Linked DNA regions of Homo sapiens: region 2 is linked to region 1. Evidence: fine-mapped expression QTL. Tissue or cell type: whole blood. Region 1 holds a variant in brackets; the other region holds the start of a gene. All regions are shown on one strand. Distances are between the middles of the regions.

Region 1 (2,753 bases):
CCTTTCCTGTGCTCTGTCCCCTATAAAAGAAAACAAGAAATTACTTAAGTCTGTTCAAGCCCTCTTAGACCACTATGAAATTAATGTTAAATCCTAGAAGTATATACCACCTGATGATGCTGATTTAGACTACAAAATTGTTAATCAGTAAGATTTTTCTATTTTTTTTGAGACAGGGTCTCCCTCTGTTGCCCAGGCTGGGGTGCAGTGGCGTGATCTCAGTTCACTGTAGCCTCAACCTCCAAGGCTCAAGTGATCTTCCTGCCTCAGCCTCCCGAGTGGCTGAGACTATAGGTACGAACCACCACTCCTGGCTTTTTTTTTTTTTAATTTTTAGTAGAGATGGGATTTCCCATCTGTGTTGCCCAGGCTGGTATCGATCTCCTTGGGCTCAAGGGATCCTCCCACCTTTGCCTCCTAAAGTGCTGGCATTACAGGCGTGAGCCACTGCGCCCGGCCAATAAATAAGATTTTCAAACTGTCACCTTGTAGAGGAAGAAAAAAATAGACATTAATAAGCCAGCAAACACATTTCCTCCAAATGCCAGCAAAAAGATCTCAATCAACAATGGTTGTCAATTGCTCTAAGAACCAACGAGAAAGGGGCTAGGGCTGCAGGCTACCAACAGATCAATGCTACAGTATTAACCAAAAAGCCACGCCAGCTGTGAGGGCAAAAGCTCCAGGAGTGCAGCTTTGGAACTACCTAGCTCAGGTACATTACCTCCCAAACAGAAAAGACAATCATTTTCAGCAGCCTGACGCCTCAAAACTGTGGGAGGAGGGGTATCCCCTCCACACCCCATCCCCTCGACCTCATGACTCATTCAGCCCGTTACCCACTCTGCGGGGATCACCAATCGCCAGGTAACCCTGCTCGTCGCTGGCTGATGTAACCGGCGGTTGAGGGCGAAGAGGGGGCCGCTGGCGGGGCTGGGGGACAGCGCAGCCGCAAAAGCCATCCACCGGGAGGCCTCGCCCGGTCTGCGCCTGCGCACTAAAACCCACGGGACTTTCCGAACCCCCACCTCCAGCGATCAGAGCCCACTGCGCCTGCGTGTGCTGCCACTCTTAATTCCATTAACACACACACACTCGCACAGGAAAAACTGAGCAGGGCCTCCACTACTCATGCACTGCCACCAGACGAGCCCCTCCACGAACTAGTCCCTGCCCTAGGTGTTCCCGGGGCGCGCGAATGCCCGGGTCATGAGACCGAGCATCCACGCGCACGTACGGGAAGGGGGCGCGCGCGCCAGAGGCTCCC[G/A]GCCCGCAGTCCTCCCAGTCATCCCTCCTTCCGTCCCCCCGCCCACCTCGCTCCCCTCCTACTGGCCAGACCGGGAAGGGGGAGGCAGCAACCCGCTCCCAAGTCCCTCCCTCCCCATTGGCCAAACTGTGGGCCGCGCGCCCCCCTCCATTGGCTACGGCCGGGGACCCCTTCCCGCAGCAGACTCCCCATTGGCTGAAGCCGGGGACCGCGAGACCCTTCGTGGTAATGGAACCGGGGACCCCGATCAGCTCCTTGCCCCCCCCCAACTCCCCGTTCCGACGGCGCCGGCGGGATGCGCCCCGCCTCCCCTGAAGGCCGGGGCTGCGAGCCCTGACTAGGCCCCGAGAGCCGAGCGCGGCCCCTCAGTGCTCCGGTGGCCGCCCGGGGACCCTTTCCGTCCGACCTGTTCGGACCTGAGGGGGCCCTCCCCCAGCTTCACGGGGACTCCCCACCCAGCCGGTGCCCCTGACGGTGCCGGGTCGGGGTCCGCCCCACCGGAACCGAGCCACAGCCTCTGGGTGGCCGCGGCTCCCTCGCCCGGAGCCCACCCTTCTCACCTGGCGCTGCCGATGGCGGCTGCCCCCGGCCTCTCCTGGTGTTGCTGCGGCGGCGGCGGCTGCGGCGCCAAGATGCCTTCGGCTCCCCGGCGGAGCCCGCTCCCGGCAGCGGCCACAGGCCCCAGGCAGGGGGAGGCGGCCGCTGGAGGCCCGGGAGGAGCCGCAGAGGTGGCCAGCGGCCCCGGGAGGCCGCCGTTGGGAGGGCTGGTGCCCCCGGGGGGCCGACGGGCCACGGCCTGTTGCGTGGGGGGCGGCTGCTGGGGCTGGGAGGGCTGTTGTAGCGGCTGAGGCTTCAACATGATGGCAGCGTCCGGAAGGGGAATTAGAGAGAAGGGAGGGAGAGAGGGGGCCGGGGCTGGGGCCCCGCTGGAGAGCGCGGGAAGCGAGGGGGATCGGGCAGCCGGGGCCCGCCGTGGGCGGGCGGGGGGAGCCCCGCGGTGTCGGGGGTGGAGAGAGAAGACCGCGGCGCGAGGAAGCGCCGCGAGGCGGAAGGGGAGGGGGTCTCGCGGCTGGAGGAAAGCGAGAGGGCGCGAGCCGGGCTGGCGCGCGTGCGCGTCGCCGGGGAGCGGAGAGGGAGGAGCGCGCGGGTGGGAGCTCCCGGGGGGGGGGGGGGGGGGGGGGGGCCAGGAGCGAGCAGTGGCGCGAGGTGCCGCGCACACCGGCGCGGTTAGCTCCCGGCGGGAAAGTGGGAGAGAATCAAGTCGGTGAACCTCGCACCCCTAGCCCTGGGAGTGGGTAAGGAGCGGCGCGGGCGCTCACGCGCGCCAAGGATTTAGGGTCTTAAGGTCTCAAACCGCCTTAGAAGCCGGCGGCCGCTGTCGCTTCACAATGAGCGTGTGAGGCGCAGGGGGAGGAGCCGAAGGCGCCAGAGGAAGGGCCGGCCTCTCCGCCCACGCCGTCGCTGCGTCGCGATGCCTCCGCGGGAG
Region 2 (2,627 bases), 22 kb before region 1:
CAAACCGTCCTCCCACCTCAGCCTCCCAAACTGCTGGGACTATAGGCTGGCACTATAGCCACCGTGCCCAGCCTCTTCTCAGTTTTAGAAGAGTGTTTGTTATATAGCTTCCCAGTCTGTGCATAGACCCCACGGAATCATAACCTCCAGGGGAGGAATTAGGGAATCTATTTGAAACAAACACTGTCCACTGAGTCTCAGGATCTGATGAGTTCCGAAACATTAGCCAGGGTTAAGCAGCCATAATTAACACTTTGGAGTGCCCTGTGGAAGCTGCCATGAGATGATGGATGTGAAAGTTAAGGGACATTGACTACCCTTGCACCCATTCATTCAACATTCACTGCATGCTCCACCCTGTTAGGTGCTGGGGACACCGACAGATTAAAGGAGACTCAGGCTCCCCTTAAAGGCTCCCCTAGCTGGCTCCTCATCCTTGGCTCCTCATCTGCAAAATTAGATGGGTGGGGCGATGCCCAACGGAACTGCTCCTTAGGCTGCTGAGGGACTACAGGGGTGGGCAGCGAAGCTGTCTGTCTTGTGGGCTCTGGCCCTGTGAGGTCTAGCAGTACAGGGTCCCCGCAAGCTGCCTGACCTCACAGGGCCCAACACTGACTCCTACCCAGTTCATCTCCTCTCAGGGCTAGATGTCAGGCTCTCCCTATGAAGTGGATACTACTATTCCCATTTTACAGATTAGAAAACAAAGTCTCAGCGAAGAGGGAGGTCACACTTCACCCCATCCCCGAAAGGCGTCCAGGACCTGGTCCCCTACCTCCAGCTGCGGCAGAGGCGGCCAGATATCTCGCAAGACCCGCGTAGCGAGTCGGACTCCGGGGGACTCGGGGTCTCTCTCTGCCGGGCCCAGGAGGAGGTTCCTGAGCAGTCGGAGCCGCAGCTGCCTCCCGGAGCCCGAGCCCCTCCCTCCGGGTCCGGCCTAGCCCGCCTGACTCCCACTCTGATCACCTCCACAGCCCGCCGACCTGAGAACTACTACGCCCATGAGCCTTCGCGGCGCCGGTGATTTAGGGGACGCTCCTCAGTGCCCCCTGCGACCGCCAGAGAGAACTACGTTGCCCCTCAGCCCGAGAGGCGCGAGTGGTGGAAAACCTCTCCATCATACTCCGCCCTCGAGACACCAGCCCCCTCCATGACGTCTTCAGCCGCGCGCCCGACGTCGGCTGAGACGGCCATAGACACTGGCGGCTAGAGGGGCCCGGACTTGCCCTCCCAGCTCTAACTTCCGCCGGAAGTGCCTTCCAGCCGCAGGCGCCCTTCTTCTTCTGTGCGCTCGGGCTCCTGGTCCCGGCTCCCCGGTTACCGGGGCGCGAGTATGACCACAATGGCGGCCGCCACCCTGCTGCGCGCGACGCCCCACTTCAGCGGTGAGTGGTCAGGGAGGGCGATGGCGGCCCAGGAACACTTTGGGGGAGTGGTAGGTGGCTGGGTTCGGTCTGACCCCTTCCCTGCCTGACTCCAAGCTTCGGTCCCGGCAGGTCTCGCCGCCGGCCGGACCTTCCTGCTGCAGGGTCTGTTGCGGCTGCTGAAAGCCCCGGCATTGCCTCTCTTGTGCCGCGGCCTGGCCGTGGAGGCCAAGAAGACTTACGTGCGCGACAAGCCACATGTGAATGTGGGTACCATCGGCCATGTGGACCACGGGAAGACCACGCTGACTGCAGCCATCACGAAGAGTGAGTGGGGTTGGGGCGTCCAGCAGCGCCCTATCTACTGATGGGACCTGGAGCCAGGGAGGCAAGGCCAGCAGAGTGTCTGCTGGAGGAGTTTACTGTGGCCCCAAGAGCCCGAATTTGTGCGACAGGTGGATTGGGAGATGCAAGAGACAAATTTCTCCTGAACAGGAAGAACTTTGTGATCCACCAATGGCTTGGGGATCACAAAGTCGTGGGGAATGCTCTGCAAGCAGAGGCTGTACCCTAAAGAAGTCACAGGGCAGACCCTTAAGGCCCTCTAACATTTCTTTCTGACCCACAGTTCTCTCTGCTGGAAGAGTTAGAGATTGGAGGAGGTTATGTATTTAGGTGGGAGGGTTCAGGGGCGTGGTCTAAGCTCTGCCTCTAGCACTGGAACTTTAGCTGAGAGGTGTGTTCTTTTCCTCCTTTAGTTCTAGCTGAGGGAGGTGGGGCTAAGTTCAAGAAGTACGAGGAGATTGACAATGCCCCGGAGGAGCGAGCTCGGGGTATCACCATCAATGCGGCTCATGTGGAGTATAGCACTGCCGCCCGCCACTACGCCCACACAGACTGCCCGGGTCATGCAGATTATGTTAAGGTGAGGGTTGCTGGGACACTGGAGACAGGGCCAGAAGCTGCCTCTTGTCAGGATAAATGTTAGGCTTGTGGGGAGGAGATTAAGATATTCAGTGTTTGGGTATGAGATGGCAGGTTTGTGGTCTTGGCCACGCAGAATGGGTGGTGAGGAGATGGTAGAGAAAGGTGGGCCTGAGTTTCTAACTGCTACACTTGGCTATATGGATGTGAACTGAAGAGCTCGTTGAACTTGGCTGTTTCCTTTCCTTCTCCTCTCCAGAATATGATCACAGGCACTGCACCCCTCGACGGCTGCATCCTGGTGGTAGCAGCCAATGACGGCCCCATGCCCCAGACCCG

What was found. PIP is the estimated chance that this variant, and not a neighbour inherited with it, causes the effect.
Region 2: it holds the start of TUFM, and the variant in region 1 is fine-mapped to the expression of TUFM in whole blood (TOPMed, PIP above 0.99).

The regions. Positions count from the first base shown.
Region 1 is chr16:28,822,633-28,825,385 of GRCh38, reverse strand. ATXN2L (ataxin 2 like) reads right to left here and starts at 2,387. Exons shown (of 22, transcript NM_007245.4): 1 at 1,828-2,387; 2 at 1-20. The coding sequence starts at 2,126. LOC124903672 (a long non-coding RNA gene) reads left to right here and starts at 1,344. Exons shown (of 2, transcript XR_007065042.1): 1 at 1,344-1,492. RefSeq lists a silencer at 1,181-2,330 and enhancers at 2,651-2,753, 2,372-2,753. The variant G/A (reference allele first, on the strand shown) is at 1,268.
Region 2 is chr16:28,844,976-28,847,602 of GRCh38, reverse strand. It overlaps TUFM (Tu translation elongation factor, mitochondrial), which reads left to right and starts at 1,255. Exons shown (of 10, transcript NM_003321.5): 1 at 1,255-1,385; 2 at 1,497-1,691; 3 at 2,123-2,289; 4 at 2,548-2,627. The coding sequence starts at 1,334. It also overlaps a transcript of SH2B1 not described here. RefSeq lists an enhancer at 904-1,393.